Homo sapiens: one gene and its partner. The protein of the gene in region 1 interacts with the protein of each later gene in a biochemical or structural test. Each region holds a gene or a part of one and is shown on either strand. Other genes may lie near its edges. The genes, in order: LIMD1 and TRPV4.

Evidence for each region.
Region 2: the proteins of LIMD1 (region 1) and TRPV4 interact in a test that uses a peptide from one of them, tested with the Homo sapiens proteins (one large-scale study listed by BioGRID).

The regions. Positions count from the first base shown.
Region 1 is NC_000003.12:45,684,038-45,686,904, forward strand, and holds the end of LIMD1 (LIM domain-containing protein 1), read left to right. Parts: 3' UTR 1-2,304; downstream 2,305-2,867. UniProt on the Homo sapiens protein: Adapter or scaffold protein which participates in the assembly of numerous protein complexes and is involved in several cellular processes such as cell fate determination, cytoskeletal organization, repression of gene transcription, cell-cell adhesion, cell differentiation, proliferation and migration.
Region 2 is NC_000012.12:109,826,881-109,830,701, reverse strand, and holds part of TRPV4 (transient receptor potential cation channel subfamily V member 4), read left to right. Parts: intron 1-3,099; exon of another isoform or gene 3,100-3,821. UniProt on the Homo sapiens protein: Non-selective calcium permeant cation channel involved in osmotic sensitivity and mechanosensitivity. Activation by exposure to hypotonicity within the physiological range exhibits an outward rectification.

The DNA of each region.
Region 1 (2,867 bases):
ACACAAACATGATTGAGACCTTGTACTCTAGGTGTAAAAAAACAGAGTAGGTCATACTCTGTGGGTTATGGTCAGAGAGATCTGGTTAGAAGTTCCCAGGTAGGCGACAGCCCTAGATGTGTGACACTTCTAGGAGAATCTCTGGCTATGTGGATACGTCCAGGTGTGTAAGGCAGCCTCAGGGACTGCCACCACTTGGTCACATACATGTCCCTCCAACTAATCCTAGCTCTCAAGGACAGGTGGTTCTGGGCCCTGTGTTGCCCATGAGACTTGGTCCACGGCAAGCCTGTGACGGAGTGAAAGTGAGGGGACACCCAATTTGAAAACTCGGCAGGAAGCCAGACTCCATGACATACAAATAGATCAAAGTGAATCGGCTCCGTTGTTTGGGGAAATACCTGAGGTTTGTTGTTTCGTGCCAAGAAGATTAACAACACGGACACACGTGGGTGGGTTAAGGAGCAGAAAGTTTAACAGGCAGAAAAAAGAGAACAGCTCCCCCATGCAGAGGGAGGAGGACTCCGAATGGATCTCCCCATTCCTGGCGGGAAGCAGACTGATATATAGAGGAGGGGGTTTGAAGAGGTGGTATTTGATTTACATAGAGCCCAAGGGATTGGTTTGACCAGGTGTGCCATTTACATAGCCCTCGAAGAAACTGGCCATTCCACCTTGATCTTTTATTATGCAGATAGGGTTTTTTACTTGGCCAGAGCCTTGACACCTGCACACATGGCAACAAACAGAAGGGAGGCGAAATCTTCCATATTGGATGCACCTGTCTTCCAGGTGCAGCTGCCGGCATTTATCTGTGCAAGCTTCTAGCTTGCTTATTTATGCTTGCAGCTTGACTTTTCAGGCTGCTTTCTGTTGGAAAAGAAATGGTTTTGGGGGCTGCTTTTTATTAAAAGAAAAGCCTTACCAAGGACTCCTGTACCCTATCTGCCTAAATTTTTTTTAACTACTATATTAAAAGGTCTGTAAGTGGGAGCTGGCCCTAAAAGTAGGTTGTAGAGATTATTTGGATGTGCCAACAAGCTTCATCTGCAGCTTGGACTGTCTCCATTGGAAGGCCTCTGGCAGATTTTGTAAAAAGTTATATAACAATTTTACTATAGGAAAAACTTGGCTACAGATATGAATTTATATTACCCATCATTGGCTGGTTCCTTATCCTGAACATTGGTTTCCTTGGAATCTGATTTTGGCTTGTTTGGCCTTTAAAAACCCCAGAAGAATGGGGTTTCTGCCAGATTATTTTCTGGTTTTCAGTCTCACTGAATGTCACAAAGGCCTTGGTTTATGGTTCCCAACTGGTAAAGAAACGTCAAACTTTGCCTCTCTTAGTTCCTTCTACATGACAATGGGTGGCAGTTGCTCATATGGAAGCATTTCTTTTCCCCCTAAAGCCTATGAGACAGGCTGCAACTTAAACCCCTATTTTATTAAAGGAGAGGAAATGTCCAAGAGCCCAGAGATAGTGGGTAAAAGCATCATAAGGACTAGAAATGGGGTCTTCTTGTTGCTAATTAGTAGGGGTGAGGGGTAAGTGGCAGATGTGACTGCCGTCCATGCCCAGACAGGGAATTGTCCTTGAACCTACTCATGCGGTGTCTTCTGGGGTACAGTGAGTCCACAGGGCAGGACGGCCTTGGAGTCAAGAGCCCAGACTCACATTCTATCTCAGGCTTCATAACTCAATTGCTCCATGACCTTAAGCCAATTTAGTTCCCTCATCTGTAAAAATGGGGATAACAACTGAATTTACCTCATGGGATTGTGTAATGCCCAACCTTGTTTTTACTAACCCTGTTTTTAGACTCTCCCTCTTCCTTTAATCACCTAGCCTTGTTTCCACCTGAATTGACTCTCCCTTAGCTAAGACAGCCAGACAGACTCCATCTTGGCTCTTTCACTGGCACCCCTTCCTCAAGGACTTAACTTGTGCAAGCTGACTCCCAGCACATCCAAGAATGCAATTAACTGATAAGATACTGTGGCAAGCTATATCCGCAATTCCCAGGAATTCGTCTGATTGATAACGCCCAAAGCCCCGGGTCTATCACCTTGTAATAGTCTTAAAGCCCCTGCACCTGGAACTGTTTACTTTCCTGTAACCATTTATCCTTTTAACTTTTTGCCTACTTTATTTCTGTAAAATTGTTTTAACTAGACCCCCCCCTCCCCTTTCTAAACCAAAGTATAAAAGAAAATCTAGCCCTTTCCTCAGGGCTGAGAAAATTTTGAGTGTTAGCCGTCTCTCGGTCGCTGGCTAATAAAGGACTCTTAATTCGTCTTAAAGTGTGGCGTTTTTCTAACTCGCTCAGGTACAACAATTGTTGTAAGGAATGATTGAATTCATCCAAGTAAGGGAATTAGAGCAGTTTCTGGCATGAAGTAATTGCTCAATAAAGTGTGTCAGGTTTTAAGATTAATTGATCTTTACATCATGATAAATGGCAACAAAATAAATGACAAATGGATTAAAGTAAATGGTAAAAACAACATAAGAACAAAACATTAAAAAATCATATAATAGAAGAAACCAAATATTAGTAAGTGTGAATATATAAAGTGAAAATTACTACAAGTTCAAATATATATATATATATATATATATATATTTTTTTTTTTTTTTTTTTTTTGAGACAGAGTTTCACTGTGTCACCCAGGCTGGAGTGCAGTGACGTGATCTCAGCCAACTGCAGCCTCCACCTCCCAGGTTCAAGCAATTCTCCTGCCTCAGCCTCCTGAGTGGCTGGGACTACAGGCACACACCACCATGCCTTGCTAATTTTTGTATTTTTAAATAGAGAGAGGGTTTCACCATGTTGGCCAGGCGGGTCTCGAACTCCTGACCTCAA
Region 2 (3,821 bases), on another chromosome or scaffold:
ATTTGACTTTGGGAAAGACACTCCAGTCCGTTCTCCAAATTATAGGGACCCAGGTAACAGCTCCTCTTGTTGTCACAGATAGGGTCTGGGGAGCCAAGATAACATTTATTTCATGCCAGTGGGCCCTCTGGAATGCTCCACATCGCCCATTTGGAGCAGAATTCACCTGTTAAAGATTAATTCCGATCTCTTGAGATAAGTGGCTGCTGTTATGAACTCTGGGTACAAGGTTCTGTCTGGCTTTAGCCAACCCTGGGTTGCATTAACAACTATTATGATGGTGGCAAGCCTTTATTGAGCACTTACTGTGTGCCAAGCACTGAGTCAAGCACCCTCAGCACATTTGGATACAAAACTATTTTTGTCTCTATTTTTCAGAGGGCAGAATGAGGTCTAGAGGGTGAAATCTCTTGCCTGGGTTCTCTCAGCTGAGAAGGGGCAGAGCTGGGACCTGAATCCCATTTGTGTGATTGCAAATCCATCCCTTCACCTGTAAGGTGGCCCGTCCCCATTTGTCTGGACCCTCATTGGGGTGCCTGGGGTCATGGGGGAGCTACTCTGCAGTCCAGAGATAGGAACCTGAGTTGGCCGGGTGCAGTGGCCCACACCTGTAATCCCAACACTCTGGGAGGCCAAGGCAGGTGGATCGGTCGAGCCCGTGAGTTTGAGACCAGCCTGGGCAACATGGTGAAACTCTGTCTCTAGAAAAAATACAAAAATTAGCCGAACGTGGTAGCACGCACCTGTAGTGCCAGCTACTTGAGAGGCTGAGGTGGGAGGATCGCTTAAGCCCAGGAGTGAGAGGTTGCAGTGAACTGCGATTGTGCCACTGCAGTCCAGAGCAAGAGATCCTGTCTCAAAACAAACAAAGAGCCTGAACTGCAGACAGGCCTGGGCTTAAACTGCATCCGCATGTTTAAGACAGGCCTGCTATTCCCCGCTGGAGGAGCTCAGGGAAGCCACCTGGCCTCTCTGGGCTTCCATTTCCTCCTGTGTCAAAGGGACTCTCATCCCACTTTGCAGGGATGACCCAAGGCACGTGGATGGGGCTCTGAAGCACAGCTCTTCTGCCTCAGCCCGTGTCAGCTCCCCTTGTCCCCAGGCCCATTCCAGGGCATGTTTTCTTCCAGCTTATCCCCCAGACATCCTCAGAGAGCCCCTCCATGCCAGGTGGGTGGGTGGAAGGTATTGGGGGCAAAGCTAGACTTGCATTTGGGCAAATAATGATATGTTTTCAGCAATGAAATATTTATGAGCATTGACTGAGTGCCAGGAGCTGTCAACTTTTTTTACTTTCCTGATTTAATGCTTAAAAACTAGGGCTGGAGCCCAGCTGCCCAGGTTCAAATCCCAGCTTCCAATAAGTTCCATTATTCCTTTGGCCTCAGTTTCCTCATCTGGACAATGGGGATAAGGTAATGCCTGCCTTGCTGGGAGGTTGTGGACAGTCTTCAGCACAACCTTGAGTGTTTAGTTTAAAACCAGCATCTATTGCCTGTTGTTCACTTTTTTTTTTATTTATTATTTTTAGAGACAGGGTCTCAGTCTGTTGCTCAGGCTGGAATGCAGTGGTGTGATCATAGCTCACAGCAGCCTCGAACTCCTGGGCTCAAGAGATCCTCCTACTTCAGCCTCCCAAGTAGTTGGGACACACCCAGCTTATTAAAAAAAAAGGTTTTTTTCAGACAGGGGTCTCACTATGTTGCCCAGGTTGGTCTGGAATTCCAGAGCTCAAGTAACCCTCCTGCCTTGGCCTCCCAAAGTGCTCAGATTACAGGTGTGAGGGCTGATGTTCATTTTGATGGTGTCACAGCTTCCCCACTGCCGGGGGTGGGCAGGGGCAGGAATGCTGAGCCCCATTTTACAGCTGAGGAAATCGAGACTCAGAGAGGAAGCAATTTACCCAGGGATGCCCAGCTGGCTCATGGCAGAGCTGGAGCTGGAAGCCAGATCTGAGTGACACTGGTGTCCTTGGGTCCACGAAAAGCCCAGTGGCCAGCTTAGCTTCTTGCGTGGAAAGCTACGCTAGGCTCACCCACCTTGGCGTCTGAGCCACCTTAGCTTACCTCCCAGCTCCGCCAGTTGCTGCTCTGTGACCTCAGAAAGTGGCTTAAGCTCTCTGTTCCTGGGCTTTGCTGAGGTCAGAGCTCTGCCAACTTGAGGAGGGATTTGGGTTATTCTGGCTGCTGCTCTTGTTCTGGCCTGGGCTCCTTCAACCTCGGGTGCCCTTGCAGCCCATGAGCTGGCACCCCAGTGGCCGGACAGGAATGAGGAAGGGACAGGGCCTCACTTTCAATGTGACTCTGACTTCCTTCCCACCCCTAGCCCCTTCCTGAGCATTGGTTTCCCCTTTCTGCCCCGAGCCCTGGCCACTGCCGGCTGTGTGACCCCAAGGAGGTTACATCACTTCTCTGAGCATGTTTCCTCATCGGTGAGGGAGGATCACACGAGACCACACCAGGCGCACAGGAAGCCCTTGCCGGTCTCCAGATGAGGTCAGGGCATTGGAAAGGCCACAGAAGGAGGCGGGGGCTCAGGGGACAGACAGGCGGGCCATTGACCAAACGGGAATATCCTTCTATTTCTTTGGTTAGTGAGTAACAGCAGCCCCTCTTGTCCACCCACCCTGCCCCTTGCACAAAGAGCTCCTCAGTCTCACCAGGCGCCCGTTTTCCCCTGAGGGTGGAGTGGCCTGGGTTCCACCCGGTTGACCGAGTGGGCTGGCCACCTTCTGGGACCATTCCCTGTGTGTGTGTTTGTGTACGTGTGTATGTGTGTGTATATTGATGTGCGTGTGTATGTGCGTATGTGTGTCTGTGTGTGTATGTGTATGTGTGTATATGTATGTCTATATGTGTATGTGTATATGTGTATATATGTGTATGTGTGTATATGTATGACTATATGTTTATGTGTATGTTTGTGTATATATGTGTGTATGTGTGTATATGTATGTCTGTGTGTATGTGTGTGCATATGTGTATGTATATACATGTGTATGTGTGTATGTGAATGTCTATGTGTGCATGTGTGTATGTGTGTGTATGTTTGCGTGTATATGTATGTATGTGTGTATATTGTGTGTATGTATGTGTATATGTGTGTAATGTGTATATGTATTTGTGTGTAGTGTGTGTGTGTGTGTGTGTTTATGGAGGGTGGGTTCCATGGGCTTTGGGCTGAGACCCCAGCAGGTGAGGGTGGGACAGGGGGCATGGGGTTGACTGACCCATGGGTCTGGCTCACTCCTGTCCCTGCTTGGCACACAGGAGGGGCTCAGGAATACCTGTAGATAGAGTGAAGGGATGAATGAAGGAAGGAATGAGTGACTGGACAAGCCAGCCAGGCAGGGCATCAGAAGGAAGCACCTGCTCAGATACAGGCTCTGGCTCTGAGACCAAGTGTGCTTGAGTGAGTGTCCTGGTCTTGTTGAGCCTCAATTTCTTCATCTATAAAATGGGCTCACGATAGTTGTCCTCATGAGAGGTGTTGGTCTTATAGGCCAGAAAACCCCACACATAGCAGGTGCTCCGTAAGCTGTCTGTTAAAAAATGGATGGGAGGAAGCTAATTAGTTAGCTGGGCAGAGGTTCGCTTTGGAGACCTGTCTGCCCTGGAGAGAATGACTAAGCCCGTCTTTCACTCCTTTCCTCTGTTCATTCATTCATTCATTCATTCATCCAGCAAATACATCTTGAGCAGCTGCTATGTGCCAGGACCTGTTCCAGGCATCTGGGCCTCAGCAGTTACCAGAAGGGAGTCCCTCCGCCCTAGAGCTTTTGTCCGAGTGACATCATTCCACACGCAGTGCTTTGAGGCCAC